Homo sapiens: one gene and its partners. The protein of the gene in region 3 interacts with the protein of the main gene of each other region in a pairwise test. Each region holds a gene or a part of one and is shown on either strand. Other genes may lie near its edges.

Region 1 (10,726 bases), on a different chromosome or scaffold from region 3:
GGGAACCCAGGAGGTGGAGGTTGCGGTGAGCAGAGATCACACCATTGCACTCCGGCCTGGGCAACAAGAATGAAACTCCATCTCAAAAAAAAAAAAAAAAAGGCCGGGCGCAGTGGCTCACGCTTGTAATCCTAGCACTTTGGGAGGCCGAGGCCGGCGGATCACGAGGTCAGCAGATCGAGACCATCCTGGCTAAGATGGTGAAATCCCGTCTCTACTAAAATAATACAAAAAATCAGCCGGGCATGGTGGCAGGCGCCTGTAGTCCCAGCTACTCAGGAGGTTGAGGCAGGAGAACAGTGTGAACCCGGGAGGCGGAGCTTGCAGTGAGCAGAGATTGCACCACTGCACTCCAGCCTGGGCGACAGAGCGAGACTCTGTCTCAATATAACAAAAAAAAAAAAAAAAAAAAAGAAGAAAGAAAGAAAATAGACAATAGAAAGCCGCCAGGCAGGGTGGCTTACACCTGTAGTCCCAGCACTTTGTGGGGGCTGAGGCAGGATAGCTTGACCCCAAGAGCTCAAGACCAGCCTGGACAACAAAGGGGGCCCCTGTCTCTACAAAAAAAAATTAAAAATAACTAGCCGGGCATGGCTAATTCCATGGAATGACATGCGTGCCTGTCATCCCAACTACTTGGGATGCCAAGGCAGGGGAATTGCTTGAGTCCAGGAGGTCAAGGCTGCAGTGAGCTATGATCTCACCACTGCAATAGAGCAAGACTGACAATCTATCTACCTATTTAAATAAACTAATGTAAAATGTATTTATTTAAATGAATTAAATAATATTAAATAAATATATAAATGGAAGCCAAGGCAGCCAGGTTATAAGTGGCACTCTGGTATTATGAACCAGAGGAAATGAGTCTATCCATGTTATTCATTTATAATGCCCAGAAATCTTGCCAGAAGTCAACTAGCCAGTTAGTAACAATACCTGCACTAGAACCCAAGTCTCTCAAAACAGTATGTTTCTACACCACAATCTCTTTTATCTAAGTTACCTAAGTTATTTAACTGCAAATAGACTGTGGTCCTGTTTCTTTACTCCTGAAGTTGTAAATTTGCTTAAGAAAATAGAAAGCCTGATTATGTCTGTAATCCCTGCACTTTGGGAAGCAGGAGGATCGCCTGAGGCCAGCAGTTCAAGACCAGCCTGGGAAACACAGAGAGACTCCATCTCTTGAAAAAAGAAAGAAAAGAAAAGAAAAGAAAAGAAAAGAAAAGAAAAGAAAAGAAAGGAAAGAGAGAGAGAGAGAGAAAGAAAGAAAGAAAGAAAGAAAGAAAGAAAGAAAGAAAGAAAGAAAGAAAGAAAGAAAGAAATTAATTGTGGGAGAACAGTGCAGAGTCAGTGTTGGGAAGAGACCATGGTTACTACACTATGCCAGGTCTGAAAGATGGTCTTCCTGCCAGTGCAGAATGGATTCCATCCAAAGACAGAAAGAGTTGCCTACACAAGACAACAGCAAAACTGAAATTTCCATGAACCATACCATACAACTAGTATCACAGTGTTCTTAATCTCCAGTGAAGACTGGAGAATGAAGGCACCAATAGCTTAACTGTTAAATATTTTTCACAGGTCATTTGCAATTAAAGTTCCCAAGGCTTACCTTGACAGTTTTTAAAGTTCTATTATCATTATTATTATTATTAATATTATTATTTTAAACGTGGTCTTGCTATATTGCCCAGGCTAGAATGCAGTGGCTATTCACAGGCACTATGACAGGACACTACAGCCTCAAACTCCTGGGCAAAACTGATTTTTCCTGCCTCAGCCTCCCAGGGAGCTAAAACTACAGGCACACACTACCATGTATGGCTTCGAAGTTTTAAAATCTATGATACTGGTTTTATGATCAACAAAGAGTTCCTACTTGGTAATTCACTTAATTGTCTGTAAGTCTAGAAGTAGAGAGGTGAAACAGCAAATAAGATGATTCACTAGGGTTTTCTTTCTTTGCTAAATTTTAGAGTGCTTGCCACTGGGCTTTAAAAAAGAAAAAAAAGAAAAACTTTATGAGGTCTTCACTTAACCATGTTCTCTTTAGTTAGTAATAGGAGTAAACAAACAGCTCTTTATAGCGAGGAAGGAATTATGCCAATATTAAATCCAGAGCAAACTTTTTTTCTGCAAGTGTCAAAATTTATCAACAATTAATGAGGAGTATTTCTGTGCAAAGGCAAATGAATGAATTAACTCAACACATATCTCCCTCTTTGGAGAGTTCCTCTGAAGAAATGTTAACATAACATAATGGGTGCTTGTAACAATCACCGTACTTTTTTTTTTTTTTTTTTTGAGACTGAGTCTTGCTCTGTCACCCAGGCTGGAATACAGTGGCTCAGTCTTGGCTCACTGCAACCTCCGTCTCCCGGGTTCAAGCGATTCTCCTGCCTCAACCTCCTGAGTAGCTGGTATTACAGGCACGCACCACCATATCCGGCTAATTTTTGTATTTTTAGTAGAGACGGGGTTTCGCCATGTTGGCCAGGCTGATCTCGAACTCCTGACCTCAGGTGATCCACCCGCCTCGGCCTCCCAAAGTGCTGGGATTACAGGCGTGTGCCACCGCGCACAGCCAATCGCCTTACATTTATACCACCTCTTCATCGCATTTGATCCTCACAAGCCAGTAAACACGCTCAAATATTTCTTGTTCTGCTGCTAACCTTTAATTTTAAATAAAAATGAAGACTTGCAAGTAAACAGCTGTCATTTGCATATAAAAAGTTCAAGTCATTTACAACTTAATTTAGAAAGATACGGTTTTGTTTTTTTGTGTTTTTTTTTGAGACGGAGTTTCGCTCCTGTTGCCCAGGCTGGAGTGCAGTGGCGCGATCTCGGCTCACTGCAACCTCTGCCTCCCGGGTTCAAGCGATTCTCCTGCCTCAGCCTCCCCAGTAGCCGGGATTACAGGCATGCGCCACCACGCCAGGTTAATTTTGTATTTATAGTACAGACAAGGTTTCTCCATGTTAGTCAGGATGGTCTTGAACTCCTGACCTCAGGTGATCCACCTGCCTCGGCCTCCCAAAGTGCTGGGATTACAGGCGTGAGCCACCGCGCCCGGCCAGATACTGCTTTTTGTCATGGTTTTTATTTCCATTTTAACTTTTTTTTTTTTTTTTTTTTTTTTTTTTTTGAGAGTGGGTCTCACTCTGCCGACCAGGCTGGAGTGCAGTGGCGCGATCTCGGCTCACTGCAACCTCCACCTCCCGGGTTCAAGCGATTCTCCCTGCCTCAGCCTCTCAAGTAGGTGAGATTACAGGCGCCCGCCACCACGCCTGGCTAATGATCGTATTTCTAGTAGAGACGGGGTTTCGCCATATTGGCCAGCCTGGTCTCGAACTCCTCACCTCAGGTGATCCGCCCGCCTCGGCCTCCCAAAGTGCTGGGATTACAGGCGTGAGCCACCGCGCCGGCCCATTTTTACTTTCTTAAGTTGCAGTTACTACAATCAAAATAAAGCACCGACGGCCATACAGCATTGGTCAGCATTCAAATATAGTGGCATAATCTTATCTCCTCTAAAGGGAAGGAGAGCTGACAATGTTAGAAAACCATTTACCTAACGTGCAATCCACGCTCGCATGTCAACTATCCTATTTCAATTATTTTCCAGCACACTTATAACTTAAAGCACTTTATTTTTTTTAATTATACTTAAAGTTTTAGGGTACATGTGCACAACGTGCAGGTTACACATGTATACATGTGCAGCCATGTTGGTGTGCTGCACCCATCAACTCGTCATTTAACATTAGGTATATCTCCTAATGCTATCCCTCCCCCCTCCCCCCATAAAGCACTTTAAAAACCACATTTAAAGTCTCATTTTTAATATGACTGCTCAGCAGTGTTTTGAAAACCTTTTTTCATCTTATTTCACAAAAGACTACAATCGCGCTTCCACTTACGAATAAATCCCCTTGCTCTGACTTGCTTCAATCCTTTTATGTAAAAAAAAAAAAAAAAAAGTCTACCAAAACTTTCCCATACGAAGCACTGCAGTATCTAAAGTTAGCTACTTTCCCAAGTCACTAACACTGGGGACAAAACACAATCGCAACCGCGCCAGCAGGGATGCGCCGCCAAGCTACCACCTCCGTGCCCCCATCAGGCAAGGAGAACCTGAGGTCCCACCTCTTCCTGCCGCTCCCTTCCCAGATGCCCATGTCTGTAAATAGGCAGAGTGAATGACACCTTGGAACAAATTACCTCCGACTGACAGGGAGGGGAGGCCTGCCGTTACCCGGGCCTGGTGCCCGCTACCGCCGCCACGCGCCGGCAAGTCCCGCAAGTCGCCCCTGCCCGCACCCTGCCAGTGCCCAACGCAGAGCAACCACAGACCTGCCTCCAGGGTTTCCAGCGGGGGCGGTGGCGGACCTGTCGTGTCTGGGGACAGGTGCTGGGGAGGCTTTTTGGTCCAGGGATTTCCCTTAGGCGGCAGCAGCGGCGGCTGCCGCTTTTCCGCAGGGCCAGCTGCCACCTCTTCCCGGGCGTCCTCGGCCGGCGGATCCCGCAGCAACGGCGGCAACGGCGACGGCGGCGGCGGTGGCGGTGGCGGCTCCCCGCCGAAAGGGCCCCCGGGCCCACGCGCCTTGTGCGCCAGGTGCAGCGCCAGGGGCCTCACGGGGACAGCCGCCTGGGGCACGCTGCGTCCCAGCACCAGCGCCGGCGACGGCTCTCCCCGCGCCCCAGCGCTAGTGGCGGCCGCGGCCCTCTCCTCCCTCGCCGCCTCTTTGCCCTCACATTCGGGCGGGGGCGGCTGCTCGGCCGGCCGGTTCGCCGCGGCCAACAGCGACTCCCTCTCAGCAGTCACCGCGGGCGGATCCTCCCGAGAATGGGCGGCGGGCATCGGGGCGCGAGTAGACATCGTCCCTCTGCCCCAGCCGCCCCAGCCGGGGTGGCCCCGAGGCCAGGGAACCCGACTGCCCGTCTCTCCGCCGGGACACCGGCCGGCTCCAACTGGGGACAGACAACCCGAGAGCCCGGCGGCCGTGGCCGCCGCTGCCGCCGCCCGCCGAGGCCGCGCAGCGCCCGGCGTGACGCCCCTCCCCGCACCGAACGGAGCGCCAACCGCCCGCCGGCCCCGTCCTCTCCGCGACGCACGCCCCGAGCCCGCCACCACGCGCCGGGAGCCGCAGCCGGGAGCCGCGAGCCCTCACCTGGCGCAGGGCAGCCGCGGAGGCGCAGCACGCCGAGGCCGAGGAGCTTTACCCGAGTTGGGGAGGCGCGAGCAGCCAAAGCTGGTAACTGCCCGCGGAGGCGTGGAGACGGCGAAGAGGGGCGGCCCGAGAGCACGGGGCGGGGCCTCCCTGAGGAGCGTGACGTGGCTACTCACCGGGTCCTTCTCTCGCCGGGCCTCCCGCGGGAGCTGACGGATTCGCCCGCCCGGGTGCCGCCCGGCCCGAGGGTCTGCCCCGCCCCAGCTGCCCTCCGAGTGCGAGGGAGGACGAAGGGGACGACTCCCGGCTCACTGGCTGAGGCCGCCCCGACTGCAGGCTCAGGGGCGGAGCGCGCACCAGGCCTCTGTGGCTCGCGGCTGGCTCGCGGCCTGCCCCCGCGGCGACGGCGGCCAAGGGCCTGGGCGGGCCGCGCACATGGCGCTGGGAGGACCGAGCGCTCGATTTGCCCTTAGGCCCTAAAGCTGGGTCGCAGCTAGGCTAAGGGAGGGGACGCGGTGTCGACCCCCGGCCTGGGGCAGCTCCCAAGTGAAGTGGGCTCCGCGGCCCGGCCGCTTGGCCCGCTGGCGCCCGGCGCCTCCCCCAGGTGAAAGTTGCCTCCTGGCGCCTCGGGGCACCGCGATCACCTGTAATCTTGAGCCACGTCCCAGATGAAGGGGGAGTTACCTCTCGGTAACTGTTTAGGAAACCTTTGCCCCAGCGTTCGGCTTAGTGCGCTTCCCCGCCCGCATTCCCACCCACCAACTAAAAGAGTTCTAAAGCGTTCCTGAGTAAATTAAATAGTATTTCGCCGGCTTTTAAAATTTTTTGTTACCTGTTTCTTTAATTTGGGTAAATAGCACTTAATTACAAATTAACCATATTCCCAATAGGTTTTTTCTTCCTGGAATGGATGTTAAAATGGTACAAAGACGTTTTGATAATAAATCGGATACGAGCTTTCTACTTGGCACTCACATTCACTTAGAGATGATACTCGTTTCATTTTTGAGTCAGTGTTTGTGTCCTGGTGCAAGGTGGCTGAGAGCAGGTTCCGCCGCTGATTTTTTTCCGAGCCCCCCACCAACCCCATAGCCTTGTTAAATAAATTATCTGTGCTCGCCTTATGTTTGGGCTTTCAACCCCCACCCCCCACCCCACGCCCAATAAGTCGCTTCAATTACATTCAACTTGACGTTAATATTTTTTGCTTACTCAAAAGCCGTATTCGGCACAAATAATTTTCCTAAGGCTAATAACCTATTCATACATAACAGCTATAAACAATAAGGGTTTTCTTGTTTTCCGTGTCAGTGATCTCCAGTTTGCCCAACCCTAAGCAACCTGGCGAACCTTGTTGCAATTAAAAGGGGATTGTACTTCCACCTATATTCCCATCCATCTTTACTAGCTCTGTTATTAGTGGCGCTTTGTATTTTTTATTGGTGGTGGTGATGGTGGTGGTGGTGGTGGTTTGAGACAGAGTCTCACTCTATTGCCCAGGCTGGAGTACAGTGGCGTGATCTCGGCTAACTGCAACCTCTGCCTCCCAGGCTCAAGAGATGCTCCTGCCTTAGCTTCCTGAGTAGCTGGGATTACAGGCGCGCCACTACCACCCGGCTAATTTTTGTATTTTTAGTAGAGACGGGGTTTCATCAGGTTGGCCAGGCTGGTCTTGAACTCCTGACCTCAAATGATCCACCCGCCTCGGCTTCCCAAAGTGCTGGGATTACAGGCATGAGCCACCGCGCCCGGCATTTTTTTTTTTTTAAGAGGTAGTCTCTCTCTGTCGCCCAAGCTAGAGTGCAGTGGCGCGATCGCGGCTCACTGCAACCTCTGCCTCCCGGGTTCAAGCGATTCTCATGCCTCAGCCTCCCGAGTAGCTGAGATTACAGGCGCCCACCACCACACCCGGCTAATTTTTGTATTTTTGGTAGAGACGGTGTTTCACCATGTTGGCCAGGCTGGTCTCGAACTCCTGGCCTCAAGTCATCCCCCCACCTTGGCCTCTCAAAGTGCTGGGATTACAGGCGTGAGCCACCACGCCTAGCCTCACACCTCTGTAAAGTGTCCTTTTAATAATAAACTTAAAATTCCAAAATTTGAGCGTTCCGTCTGATTTTAGTTTCATCTGACTGACCCAATTTGCTGTAATTAACCTCTATCTTGTTACTTCATTCTGCCTCTGCAGCTACGTGCCAGACTCTTCCTCTGCTTCATAGTTCAAAATTAAGGATAAAAGACTGCTTGACCCTACTTATTTTTTCCAGCCAGATTATACAATTCATTAGCCAATCTGTGGATTATCTGCCCTTGGGTAGGGTGTTCACCTGGTCTGGAAGAACAAATTATTTGGTTCAAAACACTGCCATCAGCCAGGCGAGGTGGCTCACGCCTGTAATCCCAGCACTTTGGGAGGCCAAGGCTGGCGGATCACGAGGTCAGGAGTTCCAGACTAGCCTGGCCAACACAGTGAAACCCCGTCTCTACTAAAAATACAAAAATTTAGCTGGGTGTGGTGTCGTGCTGCGATTACAGGTGCCTGCCACCACACCCAGCTAATTTTTGAATTTTTAGTAGAGAAGGGGTTTTCACCATCTTGGCCAGGCTGCTCTCAAACTCCTGACCTCAAGTGATCCACTCACCTCGGCCTCCCAAAGTGCTGGGATTACAGGCGTGAGCCACACACCCAGCCATAAATATCTTTCTTTTTTTGTTTCTTTGTTGGTTTTTTTTTTTTTTTTTTTGAGCTGGAGTCCAGGCTAGAGTGCAGTGGCATGATTTCGGCTAACTGCAACCTCTGCCTCCCAGGTTCAAGAGATTCTCCTGCCTCAGCCTCCCGAGTAGCTGGGACTACAGGCATGCGCTGCCATGCCCAGCTAAGTTTTTGTATTTTCAGTAGAGACGGAGTTTCACCTTGTTGCCCAGGCTGGTGTCGACCTCCTGAGCTCAGGTGATCTGCCCCCGCTTGGCCTCCCAAAGTGCTGGAATTACAGGCGTGAGCCACCGCGCCTGGCCTGTTGAAAGAGGCCTCTTTCTGTTGCCTCACTCTGTTGCCTAGGCTGGAGTGCAGTGGTACGATTTTGGCTCACTACAGCCTCTTCCTCCTGGGTTCAAGCGATTCTCCTGGCATGTGCCACCATGCCTGACTAATTTTTCTTTTTTTGAGATGTAGTCTCACTCTGTTGCCCAGGCTGGAGTGCGGTGGCAGGATCTTAGCTCACTGCAAGCTCCACCTCCCAGGTTCAAGCAATTCTCCTGCCTCAGCCTCCCTAGTAGCTGGGACTACAGGCATGCACCACCATGCCCAGCTAATTTTTTGTATTTTTAGTAGAGACAGGGTTTCACCATATTGACCAGGCTGGTCTTGAACTCCTCACCTCAAGTGATCCACCCTCCTCAGCCTCCCAAAGTGCTGGGATTACAGGCGTGAGCCACCGCGCCTGTCCCTAATTTTTGTGTTTTTAATAGAGACGGGGTTTCACCATGTTTACCAGCCTGGTCTTGAACTCCTGACCTCAGGTGACCTGCCAGCCTCAGCCTCCCAAGGTGCTGGGATTACAGGTGAGAGCCACCGCCTCTGTCTTGCTCTGTCACCCAGGCTGGAGTGCAGTGGCCCGAACTCAGCTCACTTCAAGCTCCGCCTCCCGGGTTCACGCCATTCTCCTGCCTCAGCCTCCTGAGTACCTGGGACTACAGGCGCCCGCCACCACGCCCAGCTAATTTTTGTATTTTTAGTAGAGATGGGGGTTTCACCATTTTGGCCAGGCTGGTTTCGAACTCATGACCTCAGGTGATCCATCCGCCTCGGCCTCCCAAAGTGCTGGGATTACAGCGTGAGCCACTGCGCTGGGCTATGAAGACATTCTTACATGATCTATTCAGTTCCATTTAACTTTTTAATTTAATTTAATTTTTTTTTTTTTTGAGACAGTCTCGCTGCATCGCCCAGACCGTAGTGCAGTGACGCCGTCTCAGCTCACTGCAACCTCCGCCTCCCGGGTTCAAGCGAGACCCTGTCTCAAAAAAAAAAAAAAAAAGAAAAAGAAAAAGAAAACAGCCAGGCGTGGTGGCTCAAGCCTGTAATCCCAGTGCTTTGGGAGACCAAGGCGGGCGGATCACTTGAGGTCAGGAGTTTGAGACCAGCCTGGCCAACATGGTGAAACCCCGTCTCTACTAAAAATACAAAAATTAGCCGGGTGTGGTGGTGGTGCCTGTAATCCCAGCTACTGGGAATGCTGAGGCAGGAGAATTGCTTGAACCCATGAGGCGGAGGTTGCAGTGAGCCAAGATCACCCCACTGCACTCCAGCCTAGGTGAAAAAGCAAGACTGTCTCAAAACAAACAAACAAAAAAACAAAACAAAAAAAAAAACAAAGCATGAGTAAAGATGAGGTTAGAGAGATAGCCTAAGGCAGAGCCTGCAGGGGCTTCTGGATTATGACAGAATTTGAATTCTATCAGAGCAATGGAAAAACACTGAAAAGATGTAAGAGTTAATACCCCTGTTGCTGTAATACGGAAAATGAAGTGGAATGGGCAGTGACAAAATGCAAAATGTGAAAAACATGAAGTTGTTGTAGTATTCCAAGAATGATATGATGATGGTCTGGACTTAAGAGGTGGCAGTGCATAGGACAATGGAATGATTTGAGATACATTTTGGGAATGATCTCATTAACAGGAATTGCTAATCTAATGGATATGAGAAATGAAATAAAGAGATCAAGTTCTAAATTTCTGCCTAAAGCTGGGCACAGTGGCAGCTGCCTGTAGTCCCAGCTACTTGAGAGGCTGAGGCAGGAGAATCACTTGAGCTTAGGAGTTTGAGACCAGACTGGGCAACATAGCAAGACCCTATCTCAGCTCATCTTCTTAGTATTCTTATAATATAATTAAGTAGGAGAAAAAGTTCAGAATTAACTGTAGATAGTGTATTCTGAGTGTAAAATCTGAGAGAATCAAAATGCTTCATATGTTTATATGAAAATCATAGGCTGGGCACAGTAGCTCAAGCCTGTAATCCCAGCACTTTGGGAGGCCAATGTTGGTGGATTGATTGAGCCCAGGAGACTGAACCCAGGAGTTTGAGACTAGCCTGGGCAACATGATGAAACCCGGTCTCTACAAAAAAAAAAAATATATATATATATATATATATATGGCCAGTGAGGACTAAGCTCTCATTTTTTTCATCTTGCCCAAATTCCTATCTGAGGGGTCTGGGGAGTCATGCCCTACAAACCATAAATTCTCATCAGATGGGTTTTATTTAACCCTATATATTGTGACTTACTTTCTAGTGTGACTCTGGCATAACAAAGAAGAAAGTCAAAATATTTTACCCCAAAACATGTTTCTTTGCCATATTTTGTTTTATTTTATTTATTTATTTATTTATTTATTTATTTATTTATTTTTGAGATGGAGTCTCACCCTGTCACCCAGGCTGGAGTGCAGTGGCACGATTTCAGCTCAATGCAACCTCTGCCTCCCGAGTTCAGGCGATTATTTTCCCTCAGCCTCCTGAGTACTTGGGATTACAAGTGCAC
Region 2 (10,838 bases), on a different chromosome or scaffold from region 3:
CGAGGGAAAGTACAGAATCCACCTGCTGACAAAAAACTGCAAGCCGTTCAGCAGGGTTCTGGGATATCTCTGAACAGGAAAGGAGTTGATCTGAAAGAATTAAACTAAATATACACTTAATTACATAAGTCCTGATCTGTGAATTTTGTTGAAATTGGTGATATGGTTTGTATCTGTGTCCCCACCCAAATCTCATACAGAAATGTGATGCTGGAGGTGGGGCTTGGTGGGAGGTCACTGGATCATGAGGGCAATTTCTAACAGTTTAGTACCATCCCCCTGGTGCTGTTCTCATGACAGAGTTCTTATGAGACCTGGTTGTTTAAAAGTGTGTGGCACTCCCCCCAGCCCCCTTCCTCCTGCTCCAGCCATGTGAAGATACCTGCTCCAGCTCTGCCTCCCACCATGAGTAAAAGCTCCCTGAGGCCCCCCCAGAAGCAGATGCTACCAGGCTTCCTGTATAGCCTGTGGAACCATTAGCCAATTAAACCTCTTTTCGTATAAATTACCCAGTTTCAGGCATTTTATAGCAGTGCAAGAATGGACTAAAAAAACTGGGAAGACAAAAGGGAACAATATTCCCTGAAACCCCATTTCAGTCTTTTCTCAGCACTTCTGCCCCTTGTGACAGATAGGACACTGTTAAAGTCCCAACCCACAGGGCCTCAGAATGTGGAGAGGGGGTCTTTAAAGAGGTAAATTAAGGTTAAATGAGGGCATCAGGATAGGCCCTAACCCAACATGACTGGTATTCTTATAAAATAGGGTGATCAGGACACAGTAGGAAGACCACGTGAAGACATAGGGAAAAGGCAGCCATCTGCATGTCAAGGAGAGAGGCCTCTGAAAAAAACCAAACCTGCCAACACCTTCATCTCAGACTTCTGGCCTCCAGAACTATAGAATATAAATTCCTGTTGTTTAAGCCACCCACTCTGTGGTACTTTGTTCTGGCAGCCCTAGCAAACCAATACAGATTTTAGTATCTGTATCAGGTATCAGGACTGTATTTGGGAGTCAGGACGTTAACACTGTTTAGCCCATACCTACAGGAACATGGCCAAATCAGACCATCTGAAAGAATTTGGTCTGTCTGACCATCTGTATGTTGAAGCCATACAACCCAAAGGTCTTTAGGTAACTAAGCTTTGGACTGGGCATGCCATAAAGATAAAACTAGGTGACAACACGAGTTGAGCAGATACAGACCCCATCAGTGCCTATTCAAGGAAGGGACCAGTCATATGGCAATGATTAGATACACACCTTCCAACCAGCCTCAGGCTGTTCACAGGCTGGTTATATTTATTCAGACATTTTTCATGAAAATCAACTGTAGAGTTTCTAGAGTTCATTATTCTCACATATGTCAAACAGATCCATGGTTCCCAAAATTCTTCATAGTAACACACAAGACTATTTGTACAAACAGGAATTGCATTTGACAAATAATTACTGAATATCTATTCTACACTTCAAATATGATGGGGTTTCTTATAGACTCAATTGTGTCCTCCCCAAAATTCATGTGTTGAAGTCCTAACCCCAAGTACCTCAGAATGTTACAGTATATGGTCTTTAAAGAGGTAATTACATTAAAATAAGGTCATTAGGATAGACCCTAATCCAATATGATTGCTGTCCTTGTAAGAGGAAATTTGGGGCCAGGCAATGGTGGCTCACGCCTGTAACTGCAGCACTTTGGGAGGCTAAGGCGGGCGGATCATGAGGTCAGGAGTTCGAGACCAGCCTGGCCAACATGACGAAACCCCGTCTCTACTAAAAATGTAAAAATTAGCCAGGCGTGGTGGCGGGCACCTGTAATCCTAGCTACTTGGGAGGCTGAGGCAGAATTGCTTGAACCCGGGAGGCACAGGTTGCAGTGAGCTGAAATCATGCCACTTCATTCCAGCTTGGGCCAAAAAGTGAAATCCCGTCTCAACAACAACAACAAAAATGTAAATTTGGACACAAACACAAACAGAAGGAGGATGAAATCAAAGCTTTCTGGAGATGATCATACTATACATTTGATACAGACAAAAAGCACAGAAATCATTGATTTCAGCAGGCTCCCTTACTCTCTTCATAACTGCCGGTACTAGACCTCTTGAGAGTTTGAATTTCCTGGGAAAGCATTGAAAGCCGATCTGACTGTGTAGGGGTTTCATCATCTTCTGGGTCCGGTGATTCCTGCATCATTTCTTCAATTTCTTCAATAACCTTCGAAAACACACACACCACTGTTAATCAAATATACAAAAGGAAAATGATCTATCTGGAACACAGTGCTCACCTAAGGCACCCAGAGCAGAAATGCACTGAATTCTCCATTAACCAATGGTGTTCAGGTGTGGATGCTCCAAATAATCAAAATTTTTACTGTAGGAGTGAACATGGTTTATCAAGAAAAAATTACAATATACTAAACACAAACCTAAATAGAATTGGATTTACTACGTCCATCATGATTCAGAAGGCCCTAACATGTCTTGCAAAGTCTAGGTAATCGTGCTACAAACACATAATAATTTACTTCAGACACACCAGAGCTAGATCATACAGTAATCGTTAGAAGAAAGCAAATAACAGAAAATTTACCATAGACATACAAGTGCTCAATTTAAAGGTATCTCATCAAAAATTCTGACATAAAATTTATAAAATACAATAGCACAAAAAAAGTATATATAAATGGGAAATTACCTCTATGACAGCAAAATATTCTTTCAACAGCAGAAAAATAATTTTATATATTAATTCAACGAAAAAAAGGGATTTTTTAAATTACTCAAAAAGTAGAAGTCCAAAGAGAAAAATGCTGTGAAAAGCAGAAAAACTTCAGAAATACATTTGACTTTAAACAATGATCTACTGTCTAGTGCAGTGCTGCTCAAATCTTACAACAGTATCTTGCCCTTTTCCAGATTCTAAAAGTTGAGAAGGATATAGAACTCAGCGAAAATGTAAAGGAAACCCAGGAAAATTACTCAATAGTTAGAAAAAAGGACCTAAAGTTAAAAAAAAAAATTAAACACAATTAAATGAAGGAGTAAGACATCATGAGCATATTTCCATGCTTTATGAATTAACAAGCTTAACAGGTAAGATTTCCACCAAGGAAAAACAAAGGCAAATCTGAAGGAGATGGGATTATGTTAATTATAAGAAGAGTCTCCAAAACAGGAAATATAATAAGGTACAATGAGCCACTCAAGGATCCTACAGAATCTGTTATTCTAACTCTTAAAAAAAGGGAGAGTTTACGGTATTAGGCAGGTCAGTGAGGGGACAATGAATTCTCAAGGTCATGTCTATCCCTAGATTACCCTCTACCTCAAAACAACCTTCCAACCTACTATTACCTTGCTTTTTTAAGCACCACATTCTTCCCACGCCTAGAACAATTCAACCACAAATATGACTAAGGAGGATCCAAATAACACAATTTTAATGTAAATTTTTAATGTACTCCTCCCAAGCTTGCCATAATGTATCTCCTTACTGATCTCATCTTTCCAGCCTAAAAATAGAGTGTGGTAGAACTCACAGTCCGAGTAGCCATGGAACATTTTATTTCAGGAAGAAGTTCTGGCATCACATTTCAACAATACAACAGAGGTGGGAAGAGTATTCAGAAAATGAGAAAGCTGATTCGACTGGTTTTAAGTGAATACAGGGTTGACCTTATTAGCGCATTCCACGGGAATAATGCTCACTTCTTTCTGGGGCACACAATATGTTACTTTAATACATGCTAATGCTTTTTACCCAGGGTTTTGAAGATACTAAATAATTTCTACACAGATACTTTACAGTTTGTCCGTGTTTGGGTAAATCTAAAGAAACAAGGAAATTCACAATATTTTTCTGGTTTGGGGTTAAGCAACAACCTTTCCTTGGTACCTTGCTATAATCTTCAACAAGGCCTCTGTTGGAAACCTTCCCAACTAACATAATCCCTTCTGCTTCAGATCACAAATACTTATTTTTCTCTGTGGAAGAGTTAACTATTAAGCCTGTATAACCAGAAAAAAATAGGAAAGATAAGTAAACCAACAGCCATCATTTACTGTCATAACAAGAAGCCGTTTTTCAGCTCTAGAGTCTCCTTTCCTTGCGTTGCTGAGGATCTCCTCTATACCTGGTCTGCCGTGAAGAGGGGTTCATCATTAACACAGGAGACGATGATTGAGTGCATATCCAGCTGTTCTCTCAGCTCTTCATCATCTGATGTATCAAAGAGCAAACTGTCACTTACCTAAAAACAAAAATACCCATCATTAAAAGCAGGACATCCTCATCAAAACAAAGTTAACAGCTCTGAGTAAAAGAGGCTGCAGAGAAAAGCAACTACTAAGAGCCTTCCCTCAAGAGGGAGAAATTATTACAATCACTCTGTACCAGGCAATGAGTATATATTCATCTTGAACAGAAATGAGAAGAATGTAGAATAAATATGAAATCACTGAGATGCTGCATAAGACTGCTATAAAAGCTGACAGATATGCAGAAAAAAATACGGTATTCATTAGCAAGTCATAGGGAATTACAGTGAATAGAAGGGAGAATATGGGCAGGGTTAGCAACACACACTAAGATTGGTAGACGTTAACATTCTAAAGAAAACATAAAAGTTAGTTACTTGCAAACTAACTTCTAATATCTGAGTAAAAGATGATCAACTCCCTGAAAGGCGGGATCTGTCCATGAGCGTCACACTTAGCCCTTCCAATTGCACATTCCTTCTTAACAAAAAATAATAACCCTAGGTTCCAAAAACATCTTTAAACCTAACTAAGCTGGTGATTCACCACTCACCTCCTCACCATCTTCCACCCTGCTCTGCGCTCCAGGAGGACGACCTTTATGGAAGACATCAAAGGATGCCCTTGCTGTCTGGCTTCCAGGTGGGTTAAACCCCATTGGCAGACACTGGCAGACTGGAAGGTGGGATGGTGAAGGCTGGGCATGTATTTTGCTGTCTTCCTCCCTGTCAGACTGTCATTTGTTGACTATGGCTCTTCACCAAAGCCATAGCTCTGATTAGCAGACTTCTCCCACAAGGCCAATCTCAACAGTTTATGGTAATTTCTCCCTCTCCTTACCTCTTCATGCCCAGGACTGCTAAAGTACCAGTTTCTGTTGCCAGCCCTGGGGGATTGCACCACATCAAGTTTGTTTCCCTTAACCCTGCCCACACCAATATAAACAGCCTTAGAGTTTAGTACCAGTACTGATTGTAAAAACTTTGCCTGAAAAAACTCAGCAGATTAAAATGAACAAGGGAACATCTGTCTATCATCTACCTATCTGTCATGACATGACTATTCAGGTGTTGAATGGAACTGAAACTAGAACTCTATTCCTCAGGAAGGATTAGCACACACTGAGTTTCCAAAGAATAAATGGGCAACAAGGATTACGTAAGAAGCCACCATGTCATTCTATTACATAGTGTAGAACTAACATGATAAAATTTTACCTGGCAAAATTATTTATCCATGCAGAGGATATATGTCTAAAGCTGAGGACACAATGGAATGGATGTAGGTTCCTACTGCTTCCCTAGTTCTTCATAACATGAGCATCTGAAGTTTGCAGGTGAACACAGCCTACAGAGTAAGAAACCTGCACGTGAGAAGGGCCAAGGGAAGAAGCACTGGCACACTGACTTTCCAACATTAGGCTGGGAGAAGGGCCCCATCAACACTGCACGGTCCACCTACAACCCTATAATGCAACTCCAGGCTCCTGCGCAGTGACGACAGCCCTTCTCATTTTATTTCTTACTGCACCATCAGCCTAGCAAAGGCCTGGCCATGACCTTCAACACAGCATCATGAACTAAGAACACTGTGTGGAAAAAAGGAGAATCTAAAAGCTTCCAGGGAGGGAAAAAAAAATCACATTAAAAGGATCAGGAATCAAAATGTCAAGTGAATTCTCAATAGCAACAATAGATGCTAGAAAATAATCGATGTAACTTCCATGTTTGGAGAAATTCCATCCTAGAATCCTATATCCAGCTAAAACAAGTAGGCAGGGGCTAGGATAAAGACATTTTCAGACATACAAGTTCTGAAAAAATTTACCTCTCATGTGCCCTTTCTCAAAAAGCTACCAGGAGGAAAATGAAAAAGAAAAAAGATATGTGGTCTAATAACAAGTGACAAAGAGAATTCTCGTAATGATAGTAAAGTGAAAATCCCAGAATGATGACTGTAAAGCTACACTAGAGAGTAACATTCAGATTAGAATTTTTATTGCAGAGAGCATGGAGAAGAGGGAGAGGTGGGTGGGGAGGGAGAGCAGAAGGACTAGATAGATTACCTAGTGCGGTCCATTTACTAAAATGAGTTCTACGGCTCTATTGAGGCTGAACTGGTCAGCTAATTATAAACTAAATAAACCACAAAAAGGCAGGTAGTATCCTAAGAAAAAACCTAAGTAGAAAAAGAGAAAATGTAAACATAATATATCATAATGGGTCAACTGTGCACATTTAAATAGTAAATATAAATGATGAAGATTAATTCAACCCCAGATGTTATGTAATTACATTGGGAAGATGGGGAAAGGGAAGTTTTTGGGAGGGTATAGTGTCAGGGATTGGCAAAGGACAGAAGAGAGCTAAACCTTCACCCTCTGGGTAGAAAATAAATAAAGTCTAAAATTGAGAAAATAATATCAAGTAAAATGGCATGAGCATGTTATCTGCTAAAAGAAATAGCTGATATCATTTAAAGTGGCCACCTCTGGTAAGGAGAAATCAAGTGGAGCAGAGACTGCCTTTTCATTTAAGTCCTATAGTTCTAATTTACTTTTTAAACTATGACAGCTGTTCCTTTAATAATTTAATTTTTTAAAGAAGGAGAAAGATCAAGAGACTAGGCTCTTGATGAGAGGGGATGTATGATTTCTATACTGTAGAAGATGAAAATGTGGCACACTGTGATCACAAAGGCATGTCGATACCATGGAGTAGACCTACCGATTAGTTTCATCGATCCTTACACTTCGAACACTTCACACCCCCTTCCCAATCACTCTTCCTATGTTGCAACTTGAGGACCATGATTTTGTTTTATTTTTCCCCTTCTGGCTTATAAATACTAAAAGTTTTAATTTTAAAATTAATCCGGGGTGGGCACAGTGGCTCATGCCTGTAATCCCAGCACTTTGGGAGGCTGAGGCGGGTGGATTGCTTGAGCTCAGGAGTTTGAGAACAGCCTGGGAAACATGGTGAAACCCCATTGCTACAAAAAATTAGCCAGGCATGATGGCACATGCCTGTAGTCCCAGCTATTCAGGAGGCTGAGGTGGGAGGATCACTTGAGCCCAGGAGGTGGAGGTTGCAGTGAGCCAAGATGGTGCCACTGCGCTCCAGCCTGGACAACAGAGCCAGACCATGTCTCAAAAAAAAAAAAAAAAATTACTCCTAAGGAAGCCCAGGTTGCCATGGCTCACACCTGTAATCCCAACACTTTGGGAGGCCAAGGTGGGAGGATCTCCTGAGGTCAGGACATCAAGACCACCCTGAGCAACACAGGAAGACCTCGTCTCTACAGAAATATATTTTCTTAAAATTAGCCAGGCATGGCGGTACTCGTGTGTAGTCTAGCTACTCAGGAAGCTGGAGCGGGAAGATCGCTTAAGCCCAGGAGTTGGAGGCTGCAGTAAGCTATGATGGCGCCACTGTACTCCAGCCTGGGCAACAGAGGGAGACACTCTCTCAATCTATCAATCAATCAAATTGCTTCTGTGGAAGACATTATCTTTTTCTTATTTCTACTCTTAAAGGTATAAAGATGCATACAAAAGTCCCTGTCCTGAAAGAAATGCACATGGAAGGAGAAATACAGCACAGAAGATGTTCTTAAGCTGAAATGAATGATAAGCATTCTATCATATAAGTATATTCAAGAATGGCACCAGATTTAGAATAGGGTTATGGCCAAAACACATGAGTAATAACAGTAAACTATTATAATAAATTTCCATGACAACAGAAATGATCCCAGATCATCTTTCCAGAGAGAGAGCCAAGTCCATTCCCCACAGAGATGGCATATGCTAAGAGCTGGAATATCTTTCAGGCTTTGCAAACTAGCCCTGGCTGTCATGGGTATCATTATTCACTCCTCCCTTCAGCATTAAATGTGCCTTCTCTTTGCCAAGCATTCCCATCACTCCTTCCAATGCCAGGGTTAGATACAGACCTGGTGGTACTGTTTCCCTGTATAAAACTGAAGATACATCAAATGGAAAAAATGTGCCCACGTAAGAATTTGAAAGATACCAGTTGCCTTACTCTAAAAAAGACATATCAAATTTAGAAGTGTGCCATCTTAATCTTCAATCAAAGAAAAATTTAAAACTGCAATCTAGCAAACTAGTTTTCCTGAATGTTTTTCTCTTTTTAATGCAAAAACCATTCTTCTTTTGTCAAAAAAAATTTCTATACACTTGGTTTTATAAGTAAAATAATCTAAAGAATGCTTTCAAAGGGTAAATTTTACATAGCTTAGTCACGGCACGAACAGAGCACCAGGTGGCAATGGTAAATACAGTCACTTTGCCAGATTAAAAAAAAAATGCTTAATTATATACCATGTAATAGAATGACGTGATGACTTCTTACATAGTCCTTATTGCCCATTTGTTTTTCAGAAACTCAGTGTGTGCTAATCCTCCCTGAGAAACAGAGTTCTGATTTCAATTCTATTCATCACCAGAATAGTCATGTCACAACAGAGAGATGATAGGTGAATGATCACGTGTTCACTTTCATCTGCTGAGTTTTTCCAGGTAAGGCTGTTTTTTTTTTTATTTTTTGAGACAGAGTCTCGCTCTGTCACCCAGGCTGGAGTGCAGTGGCGTGATCTCGGCGCACTGCAACCTCTGCCTCCCAGGTTCAAGCAATTCTCCTGCCTCAGCCTCCCAAGTATCTGGGATTACAGGCATGCGCCACCACGCCTGGCTAATTTTGTATTTTTAGTAGAGACGGGGTTTCACCGTGTTGGTAAGGCTGGTCTCAAACTCCTGACCTTAGGTGATCCATCCACCTCAGCCTCCCAAAGTGCTGGGATTACAGGCATGAGCCACCGCGCCCAGCCAGGTAAGGCTTTTTAATGTCAGTACTAGCATTAAACTCTACGTCATTACTAATCACTGCCTTGGCCATATCATTACCGTGGCATTGAAAATAACATTCAAAAGGCAGCAAAAGGGAGCAACCTCCCAAGATGCAATCTAAGAACAATACAAGACATACAGCAGTCCCTCGGTATCCAAGGGAAATTTGTTCCAGGACACCCCAATAGCAAAATCTGCAGATGCTCAAGTCCCTTATATAAAGTGGGGTAGTATTTGCATATAACCTGTGCACATCCCCCTATAAGCTTTAAATTATATGTAAATTACTTATAATACCTAATACAAGGTAAATGGTTTATAGTTATATTGTATATAACTATACAATATTTATATTATAAAGTTATATTGTATCGGTTTTCGGTTTTTTATTTTCATTATTTTCAATTGTTGTGTTGTTATTTTATTGTGGGGTTTTTTTTTCAAGTTTTTTAATCCACAGTTGGCTAAAGCAGCAGATGTGAAACCAGAGAATATGGTGGGCCCGCTGTACATTTAGTCAATGAAATTGGATTAAACTGTCTCACTCACGCTGCTAATGGGCCTGACTTTGAAACTATGAATGGAAACTCTTCTATGCTATTTTTTAATATGTCAAAAAAGTAGTACCCATGGACTGGTTTTGGTGCATTCTGCATTATTTTAAATAACATAGAAAATATTTTTTTAAAACCTTTCTATCACGATCTCTGGCCCTACAGTTTCACTGACAAGGCTATTCACTTATTCACTCAATAAAAAGGTATCTTCAAACTTACTATGTGCCAGGAACAGTATAGTTACTATAAAGACAAATACAAATACCTGCCGGGAAGTCACAATCTAGTGACAGACCCAGAAACATATGATTAACAAGAGAAGGCAGTGGTAATTTTAGAGACAGGGACAAAGTGATCTGGGGACTAGCACCCATGAGACAGCAAGGCTAAACCCCGTGGCACAGATAACAAGTCCTTTCAAAGTTCACAACCCCACAAGTGCCATCAGTTCCCCTAGAGGGGAGTGTGTTTTCCTTCCGTGCAGGAATTTAGGCCATGGCTAAATGACCATCTGTCAGAGATGCTGGAGGTGAGGATTCCCCCCAAGTGAGAGGCTGGATTAAGTGTCCTTTAAAGCCCCTTCCAACTCTAAAATTGTATAATTCCATGAGATCAGCAAAGGCTAAAACAGTAATAGGAAGCTTCAGAGAGGAAGGGAAACTTGAACTAAGCCCAAAATGATAGCCAGGACCTAAGTAAACAAGACAGAGCAAAAGATCCCTCATTTTATTCCTTTTCATTAAATATATGCCAGGTCAGTCTGCAAAGCTTAATGGGATTAATGACTGGCACAGTCAGGAAGATTTCCATAGCTACTGAATACTGGGAAATACAGCCAGAATTCTACATTTTACTAGAAAATAATAACAGTAGGCTTTTCTGATCACATATGTAAGAAAATCCTTTTAACAAAACATTAACAATACTATGTAAAATAGTGACAGGCCTACTGCACTATATTCTCAATAATCACATAATTACACTTAATGAAATATAGAGCACGCAAGAAGATCTGGCATGAGTTTACATTATTATTTGATAAGGAACTTAAACAGCCAGGCCCTGAAACTTAGATAATTTGGATATGTTTCTCATCAGATTTAAAAAAGCTTAACACTGTGATTTTCCATTTCAAGTAATTCT
Region 3 (10,234 bases):
GATCCTAGTCCCCCAGACATGTGTACCAGTGGTTTGGATGATTAATGCAATGAAGGGGGCAAACAAGGACCTCCCCAAGGCAATATAGGGGAGAGGTGAGAGCCAGAACTTAAATATCTTTTTCCCTAACCTATCCTCTATTTACTGCCTCTGGCCATCCGCCCGTCAAAACACACACCAGTTAAAGACAGCCTTCCATTTCCCCATGGGTCTCTCATTGCTATGTTGCAATTTCTGGAACCCATGTTTCCCTCTCTAGTTTCTCCAGAGTTGGTTTCGGGCAAAGGAATCAGTAGCTTGTGCTGTCTGCCATCTTTGCAGGAACCAGAAACCCCAAGTATCCTAGAGGAATATTAGAGGTTTCTGCCTTTCAGGGTATCTGAGCCTCCTATTCACAGAAAGGACTCTTCTATCTCTCAGAGGTCCCAAACTACTATCCACAGAATTGGCTTGTCTGGTCCTTCAAACACCTGAGCTCATAAATCACAGAATGCATCCCAGAGGGTATTAGCTGTTTACTGACAAAAGAGACATTTCAGGACCTCAGAAGGCCAGACACTCCCATAGGTTGGATGGCCCTTTGGGGAGTCTGAGCCCATTTCCACAAAATGCATTCGTTAGACCCACACACAGTGCTTGAGCCCCCTAGACACAGAATAGTCTTGTCCTGTTCTTCAAGTGACTGGGCTATCATCTGAGGAATAGTCAGCTTCCCCCCAATACTGGGGGTGACGGGAGACTTTTAAGGGTCATCCCCAGGTTTGTATGGCATTCTTGGGGCAAACAGCAGAAGGGATGACTGCCCTGATGCCTCCTCATCTCTGGCAGCATTGCCTAGTGCAACAGCTCTGGCCAGAACCCAGCCTGGTCTACAGCCATACCATCCTGAACATGCCAGATCTTGTCTGACCTCTGAAGCTAAGCAGGGTCAAGCCTGGTTAGTACTTGGGAGAAGCTGGTGTGGCTAGACCGTGACCTGAGGACCCCAGTTATTTCACCCATCCTTTGTGGATGACAGCACCTGGCCTGTGAGAGAATCCCACCCTCTGAGCATGTCAGTGGGAAAAAGGACCTTTTTTTGATCATTATCCTCCAAATAACGAAGTGAATTCTATTAGGGCCTGCGTTTTATCAGTGCTTGTTGTTTGTCCATATTAGTGAGATGGAGAAGGTAAATAAGTGGTTTCTACTGCTGAAATGGTTAAGACAGGTGCTGTGAGCTGGAATCCCAGTTTAGGGCCGCTAGGCATGGGCTAGGCCAGTCTTTCAAACTGGCTCCAAAGCAAGTGACAAGAATAGGAGCCCTAGATCCTTTTGTAATTCAACAATGTGATGATTGGGCTTTCACACTTGTGTGAGATGCACCTCGCTCAAACCTTGTTAACATCTGCACGGTACCTGTCTGAAGTGGAAAACAAAAAGGAGGCCGAGGCCCCTGCCCAGGGCTGCCAGCATTGGTGCATAAACCTCACAGAGAGGCCAAGATCCTAGAAATGGTGACATGTGGAATGCCAGGGGTGGCTGCTCCAACGTTTCTAAGTAGCCCATACTTCCCAATCTCAGTAAAGAATCTTGTCCTTTTTTGAGCCAGGAACTCTCTTATCTCTCATCCAGGGGGCTGTCCTGAAAACATATATTCACAGCCATAATACAGACCCTTACAGGCCGATGGATGTACCAAAAAAACAGACTCAGGCCTTCCTCAAGCAGTGCTCCACCTGGGCTCACCTTTGGGAACTGATTGTCAGCATCCACTCTCCCCATCACAAGGGGGAAGCTGGAGCCTCTCTCCACCAAGTGAAGTATTTCCCCTCCATCAGGTAAAGGGCCCCTGAGGACTCCATCTACAGCAAAACCCAGGGAGGAGGCAGAGAAACACACAAACCACAGTGACCTTCATGTGTGCAAAGTATAGTTGTTAAAAACAAAACAACAGAAACAGAATAAATAGGCGTGGCCTCTGCGGGGCAGTGCCAAAGCAGAGCTCCACATACTTAGGCCTGGGGAGGAAGGGCTCTATGCTCCAACAAGTCTAGGGCTGGCAGGCAGGGAGGGAGGTGGGGTCTCATGTGTTGGCCCTCATGGCAAAGAATGGAGATCTGGTGGGGCCGATGGAGGGCTTGAGAAAGCCTGATCAAGATGCGGCTGTGGCCTCAGCCCCCTCCTCTGAGTCCCACACCTCTGACTGCAGGTAATCAGCAAAGAGAGCCCTAGCCCGGCGCAGGACGCGCCCCAGGTGGTGTTTTCGCACAAGGCGGTCAAAGTGCATGGCCAGCTCATTATAATCCAGCCCATTGCGCATGATGTGGTCGCGGTGCTCCAGCAGGATGGCCAGGCAGAGGAACAGCATGAATGGGTTCCCCCGGCCAAACTCCTGGGGTGGGGGCAGGCCCATTGGTGGTACAGGTGGCAGGGACTTTCCAGGGTCTTTCGGGGAGCCTACCTCTTGCATCAAGGGGGATCCTACAGCCATATCACCAGTGGGAGAGGCCTCCTGGGTGGATGGTGGAGATGAGGAAGATGGGGAATCAGGGTGGGAAAAGGAGGAGAGCAGTGGGTCTGGGGAGTTCAATAAAGGCTCAGAGAGGGACTTGGAGCTGATAAGGGCAGCTGGGTGGGGCAGCTGGACCAGAGGGTCCCTCCTGGAGCCCATGTTATCCCTGAGTTGCTGGAGGCCATCCAAGCTGGCCTGTCTCAGGAGACGCCCCCCACCACCAGGCCCCTGACTGGCTGTGGCCAGGTGGTCAACAGCATCTTCAAAGGTACTACCTCCTCCACCAGCAGGCCTCAGCATGTGCCTCTGTCGCACGGGCCACCCCCTGTGGCCACCAAAACCAGCGTCTGCCACTTGGCTGGGGGGTCCAACCAGCTCTACCTCATGTTCAGGAGGATCAGGGGGCAGCGAACTCCAAGTGACCTCAAGCATGCGGAGGGCATCGTCGAAGGCGAACTCACGCTTGAGTTCCAGCAGCAGCCAGCGGTAACAGAAGAAGAGGTCATCAGCGCCTGCCTCTTGCAGGTATTGATAAAAGTCAGGGTCAGCGTGTCGCAGCAACAGCTTCAAGTGTGCAAACTTGGTGGCCATGGCGCGGCCGTCAGGGTGGAAGTTGGCGGCCAGGCGTTTCATGATGCCACAAAAGCAAACAAAGGCATGGCCCTCATGGTCCATGACAGCGAGGATGGGTGAGGCAAGGTCACTCATGCCCTGGCAGTAGGACACCTGTGGGTGGGTAACGGCATAGGTGGTGAGCAGGTCGTGCAGCGCCCGTAGATGTGGGCCATCCTCAGGCCCCGCATAGTAGGGGTGGGCCCGGTCAGTGCGCAGTACATCCTTGAGGACCGTGCTGCGGATGAATTCCAGGTCCTCAGGGTTCGCTCGCTGGGCCCACTCGCTCTTGAGCTGCTCATACTCGCGGCTCTTGCGTTTCATGTAGTCCATCCGCTCTCGGCCTGTCAGTCCATCTGGATACACGTTCAGCAGGTACCGCCACACCACCTGCCCAGGGGTGAAAGGGATGAGGCTGGAGTTCTCCAGATAAACCATACCCCAATGTCTATCAGTTGCCACCCACCCACCCCCCTTGGGCCTCTGTCTTCCTTCTAAGTCTGCTAGGCCTCCGACTGCTCGCCCCTCCTTAAAGAGAACTTCGTGCCCTGTAACATCTCCACCCTTGCCCACAGCAGTGTGGCTGACTGCATGTGTCTCAGGAGCTGTTAATGAGTGCAGCAGTGATGGACCCAACAGATGACTGAGGATGCTCACCTTTCGCAGCGAGGGCTCCACACCGCCATGATAGATCCGCAGGCGCAACTCCTCGGGTCGGGAGAGCTGGCCCTCGTGGTTCAGGTACGTGTGAAACTCAGCATCGCTCAGGGGTGGCTTGAAGGGCTTGACATCTTCCCCATACGACCAGCTCAGCACTTGTTGGACCTTAGACAAGGTACGGCCCACCTATGAGGAGGGAGGGAGGCCACCATCAGCTGTGTGGACTAGGGGCAGATGCCAACCAGCATGCTCAGAACCAGGGTGCCAGGAAGGCTCTGCCCTCCAACCACAGCTGGGTCCCTAGGGTCCCTGAAAACACCTGAGTGAGGATGGACTGTGTAAAGGGCAGGGCGGCAGTCGTCAGTGATGACCGTTTCTCAGCCAGCAACACGTCGGAGCCAATGACATCTTTGGGGCTGATTATGTCCCAGTCTTCTAGCAATGGGCCTGGGCAAACAGAACAAAGTGCTATAAGAATGGGGATGATAACCCAGACCTCAGGGCCGGCTTCCTCTCCTTCTACTGAAGCCGGGCTACCTGCAGGGGAACAAACAACTCCCAGTCCCTCTTCCTGTATCATCCAAATCATGTAAAAAACAAAATCAAACCATGAACAATTCTTTTGTAGTAGATGTCTCAGGAACTGGCTGGGCAGCCTCTAATATTTTAATGATATAAAGTAATATTTATTGAGCAGTTACTATGTGCCAAGCACTAGGACAAGCGCTCAACAGCAATATAAGAAATAATAATACTAGCTAATGCTTCCACAGTGCTGTATGCCAGGAACTATTCTGAATTCTTTGCCAATACTGACTCATGCAATAGTCACTTCAGTCCTATCGGTTGAGTACTACTACTACCATGACTCTCTTTGAGGAAACAGGCACAGTCATGATAAGGTACTTGCCCAAGGCCCCTTAGCTAGTGAGTGAAAGAGTGGAAATTTGAAGGCCAGGCCCAAGCTCAAGAGCCCAAACTCCTACTCTCATATTTTTGCCAGTCCTCCTCCCACAAACAGTGCACGCTAATATTACCATTCTCATTTTACAGACGATGACAAAAAGGTTTGGAACAAATAGTAAGTGACCAAGATTCTACAGCCAGGAAATAGTAGGGCTGGGATCTGAACTTCATTCACCCTAGTCCAGAGCCCAGACATACTTTAGAAATAAAATATTTGTGCAAAAGTGGAACAGGTATGCCGTATATGCTTTTTTTTTTTTTTTTTTGGAGACGGAGTCTCACTCTGTAACCGAGGGTGGAATGCAGTGGTGTGAACGTAGCTCACTGCAAACTCTGCCTCCTGGTTTCAAGTGATTCTCCTGCCTCAGCCTCCCGAGTAGCTGGGATTACAGGTGCCTGCCACCATGCCCAGCTAATTTTTGTATTTTTAGTAGAGACGGAGTTTCACCATGTTGGTCAGGCTGGTCTTGAACTCCTGACCTCACGTGATCCACTCGCCTTGGCCTACCCAAAGTGCTGGGATTATAGGCGTGAGCCACTGCACCCAGCCTCTTTTTTCTTTTTTTTTTGAGATGGAGTCTCACTCTGTCGCCCAGGCTGGAGTGCAGTGGTGCAATCTTGGCTCACTACAAACTCCACCTTTTGGGTTCAAGCAGTTCTCCTGCCTAAGCCTCCCAAGTAGCTGGGATTACAGGTGCCTGCCACCAGGTCCAGCTAATTTTTTTTTTTTTTTTGAGGCGGAGTTTCACTCTTGTTGCCCAGGCTGGAGTACAATGACGGGATCTCGGCTCACTGCAACATCCACCTCCTGGGTTCAAGTGATTCTCCTGCCTCAGCCTCCCGAGTAGCTGGGAGTACAAGCATGTACCACCATGCCTGGTGAATTTTATATTTTTAGTAGAGACGGGGTGTCTCCATGTTGGTCAGGCTGGTCTCGAACTCCCGACCTCAGGTGATCCACCTGCCTCGGCCTCCCAAGGTACTGGGATTACAGGCATGAGCCACCACACCTGGCCTAATTTTTGTATTTTTAGTAGAGATGAGGTTTCGCTATGTTGCCCAGGCCGGTCTCGAACTCCTGACCTCAGGTGATCAGCCCGCCTTGGCCTCCCAAAGTGCTAGGATTACAGGCATCTTTTTTTTCTTTTTTTGAGACAGTCTTGCTCTGTCCCCCAAGGCTGGAGTGCAGTGGTGCGATCATAGCTCACTGCAGCCTCAAACTCCTGGGCTCAAACGATCCTCTTGCCTCAACCTCCTGAGTAGCTGGGGCTTACAGGCGTGTGCCACCATGCGTGGATGATTTTTTTTTTTTTTGGTAGAGATGGGATCTTACTATATTGCCTATGGTCTTGAACTCCTGGGCTCAAGAGATCCTCCTGCCTTGGCCTCCCAAAGTGTTGGGATTACAGGTGTGAGCCACTGCACCTGACCGTTTCTCTTTCTTTTTCATTTTGCCCCGCATTCTTTCTTCCCACCTCACATAAGATGTGGTGGTTGAAGCAGCAGTGGCCATCTGAGAGTAGGTTCGAGAGGATCTTCAGAGATCCTCTCCTACAGCCCTGATACGAGAGGGCTACTAAGCCAACAATGGCAATGTCCAGTGGCTGGCTTTTTTTTTTTTTTTTTTTTTTGAGACGGAGTCTTGTTCTGTCACCCACACTGGCGTGCAATGGTGTGATCCTCGCTCACTGCAACCTCTGCCTCCCAGGTTCAACCAATTCTCCTGCCACAGCCTCCCGAGTAGCTGGGATTACAGGTGCCTGCCACCACGCCTGGCTAATTTTTTGTATTTTTAGTAGAGATGGGGTTTGCCAGGCTGGTCTCCAACTCCTGACCTCAGGTGATCCACCCGCCTTATGTGGGGAAAAGAAAGAGAGATCAGATTGTTACTGTGTCTATGCAGAAAAGGAAGATGTAAGAAACTCCATTTTGATCTGTACTAAGAAAAATTGTTCTGGTTTGAGATGCTGTTAATCTGTATGTAACTTTAGCCCCAACCATGTGCTCACAGAAACGTGCTGTATTGAATCAAGGTTTAATGGATTTAGGGCTATGCAGGATGTGCCTTGTTAACAATATGTTTGCAGGCAGTATGCTTGGTAAAAGTCATCGCCATTCTCCATTCTCTATTAACCAGGGACAAAATGCACTGTGGAAAGCCACAGGGAACTCTGCCCAAGAAAGCCTGGGTATTGTCCAAAGTTTCCCCTCACTGAGACAGCCTGATATATGGCCTCGTGGGAAAGGAAAGACCTTACATCCCCCAGCCCGACACGCATAAAGGGTCTATGCTGAGGAGGAGTAGTGAAAGAGGGAGTCCTCTTTGCAGTTGAGATAAGAGGAAGGCTTCTGTCTCCTGCTTGTCCCTGGGAATGGAATGTCTCGGTGTAAAGCCGACCATTCGTTCTATTCTGAGATAGGAGAAAATTGCCCCGTGGCTGGAGGCGAGATATGCTGGCAGCAATACTGCTCTGTTACTCTTTGCTACACTGAGATATTTGTGTAAAGTGAAACATAAATCTAGCCTACATGCACATCCAGGCACAGTACCTTTCCTTGAACTTATTCATGATACAGATTCCTTTGCTCACATGTTTCCCTACTGACCTTCTCCCCACCAACACTCTGTTGCCCTGCCACACTCCCCTTGCCAAGATAGTAAAAATAGTGATCAATAAATACTGAGGGAACTCAGAGACCGGCGCTGGTGCAGGTCCTCGCATGCTGAGTGTGCCGGTACCCTGGGCCCACTGTTCTTTCTCTATACTTTGTCTCTGTGTCTTATTTCTTTTCTCAATCTCTCGTCTCCACCTAACGAGAAATACCCACAAGTGTGGAGGGGCAGGCCCCCTTCACCTTGGCCTCCCAAAGTGCTGGGATTACAGGCGTGAGCCACTGCATCCGGCCCAAGTGGCTAACTTTCAAACTCTTTTGTGTGAAACCAATCAACTTCTATCTGTTTAAGCCACTGTCATTTGCAAGCAAATGCCATCCCTAAACAGCATTCCCATGGAGCCCAATTTTCCCATAGAGCTGAGGGGGGGAACAAACCCTAGGCCATGTTTGCATGTCACTGCTTTTCCCTGGATGTCTCATGGGGTACTGCAAACCTAAGGGGTCCAAAGAGAGGAGCCCAAGATCCACTCTAGACATGGCCTCCTCCTCTACTCCTCATCTCAACAAACAGCATCTCTATCTGTTCAGTTGTTTAATAGACCAGAAACCTGAGAGACATCCTTGTCCCCCTCCCACTCTCTTAACTCCCAGGTCCAAACCACCGCCAAGTCCTACGGCTACTGCATGTAAAGCATTCCTCCATCCTACCTGTTCTCTCATCTCCATCTTCTCACCCTGTCTGAGCCACCATATCTCTCACCTGAAACTGCCTCCTAACCAGTCCTCACTTCCTCTGTATTCCTCTCCAATCTCTCCCAACAGCTGCCAGAATGGTCTTTCTAAAACATTAATCAGAGCATTAAAACACTTAACAGGTAAAATGAAGAAGGTCACATTATGAAAAATCAGTAATGGTCTGAAAGTCTGAACAGAAGAACCACTGCAAGGCATGGAGCTAAGGTTCAATGATTTGAGTGAAAAAGTAGAGAGACCTGGATGCCAAGTCCAGGAGACCAAATATGGAAATAATAGGAAATGCAGGGGGAGAAAAGGGATCAGGTGGAGATGTCAGAATTAAACAAGTATGAAAGAAAATTTCCCTGAGATGAAGGAATGGCTCACCAAGTCTTAGATAGGATTAATTAACTAACAACACACAACAGGCCCCCCACCAACCCTATCCTTTTTTTTTTTTTTTTTTTGAGATGGAGTCTTGCTCTGTCACCCAGACTGGAGCACAATGGTATGATCTCGGCTCACTGCAACCTCCGCCTCCTGGGTTCAAGCCATTCTCCTGCCTCAGCCTCCCAAGTAGCTGGGATTCCAGGGGCATACCACCACGCCCGGCTAATTTTTGCTAATTTTTGTATTTTTAGTAAAGACAGGGTTTTGCCACATTGGCCAGGCTGGTCTTGAACTCCTGAGTTCAAGTGATCCGCCTGCCTCAGCTTCCCAAAGTGCTGGGATTACAGGCGTGAGCCACTGCGCCCAGCCCGAAATGCCCAAATTCTAAGAATAAAGAAAAACTCTTAGACTGGGCGCAATGGCTCATGCCTGTAATCCCAGCAATTTTTTTTTTTTGAGGCAGAGTCTTGCTCTGTTGCCCAGGCTGGAGCGCAGTGGCGTGATCTTGGCTCACTGCAACCTCCGCCTCCCGGGTTCAAGCGATTCTCCTGTCTCAGCCTCCCAAGTAGCTAGGACTACAGGTGTGCGCCACAACACCTGGCAAATTTTTGTATTTTTAGTAGAGACGGGGTTTCACCATGTTGGCCAGGCTGGTCTCGAACTCCTGAGTTCAAGTGATCCGCCTACCTCGGTCTCCCAAAGTGCTGGGATTACAGGCATGAGCCACCATGCCCAGCCTAATCCCAGCACTTTGGGAGGCCAAGGCGGGCGGATTGCTTGAGCCCGAGAGTTCAAAACCAGCCTGGGCTGAACATGATAAAACCCTGTCTCTACCCAAAAATATAAAAATTAGCTGGGCATGGTGGCGCACACCTGTAGTCCCTGCCACTCGGGAGGCTGAGGTGGGTGGGAGGATCGCTTGAACCTGGGAAGCAGAGGTTGCAGTGAGCTGAGATCACGTCACTGCACTCCCGCCTGGGAAATAGAGATCCTGCCTCAAAAAAAAAAAAAAAAAAAAAAGAAAAAGAAAAACTCTTGCAGCTTCCAGAGACAAAAAACGGCTGCTTACAATGGAAAGAAGGTCAGACAAGCAACAGACTTCTGCTTCACAACCCTGGAGGCAATAAGACAGTAGCTCACAGCACCTATGGAGCACTAAGAAGAAAGACCTGAGATCCAAGGGCCCCACACCCAGCCAAGACAGTACAGATCTATTCAGCCAAATAAAAACATTTTTGGCCATTAGAGTACATCTAACCCATGCACTTTTGGAGGAGAACAAAGAAGTTCTCTGAGCAAATGACTCCTGCATGACTAGAAGGGCTTAAGATAGGGAGAGACAAAGGGGAAGGTAAATGGTAATATTTATATATTATATATTATATTATATATATTACATATTTAATATTTATAGTTAAAATGACAACGATAACATGATTGGGGGTTTGTAATATTATATGTTACATTAGGATTCCTGAAACATAAGTGACTTAGTGTGTTAGTAAGAAAACAGAATGATAACCCGGAATTTAAAAAGAAAAAAAATTGGCTGGGTGTGGTGGCTCATGCCTGTAATCCCAGCACTTTGGGAAGCCGAGGCAGGCAAATCACTTGAGGTCAGGAGTTCAAGACCAGCCTGGCCAACATGGTGAAACCCCATCTCTACCAAATATAAAAAAACTAGCCGGGTGTGGTGGTGCGCTTCTGTTACCCCAGCTACTCAAGAGGCTGAGGCAGGAGAATTGCTTGAACCTGGGAAGA

The links.
Region 1: the proteins of TBC1D25 (region 3) and LARP1B interact in binary tests that used the Homo sapiens proteins (3 or more experiments, as listed by UniProt).
Region 2: the proteins of TBC1D25 (region 3) and FEZ2 interact in a two-hybrid assay, tested with the Homo sapiens proteins (one study listed by BioGRID).

Annotation. Positions count from the first base shown.
Region 1 is NC_000004.12:128,055,853-128,066,578, reverse strand, and holds the start of LARP1B (la-related protein 1B), read right to left. Parts: upstream 5,268-10,726; 5' UTR 5,178-5,267; exon of another isoform or gene 4,886-5,177; coding exon of another isoform or gene 4,360-4,885; intron 1-4,359.
Region 2 is NC_000002.12:36,579,209-36,590,046, forward strand, and holds part of FEZ2 (fasciculation and elongation protein zeta-2), read right to left. Parts: intron 4,262-10,838; coding exon 4,145-4,261; intron 2,224-4,144; coding exon 2,082-2,223; intron 1-2,081. UniProt on the Homo sapiens protein: Involved in axonal outgrowth and fasciculation.
Region 3 is NC_000023.11:48,552,876-48,563,109, reverse strand, and holds the end of TBC1D25 (TBC1 domain family member 25), read right to left. Parts: intron 4,214-10,234; coding exon 4,086-4,213; intron 3,953-4,085; coding exon 3,764-3,952; intron 3,497-3,763; coding exon 2,135-3,496; 3' UTR 501-2,134; downstream 1-500. UniProt on the Homo sapiens protein: Acts as a GTPase-activating protein specific for RAB33B. Involved in the regulation of autophagosome maturation, the process in which autophagosomes fuse with endosomes and lysosomes.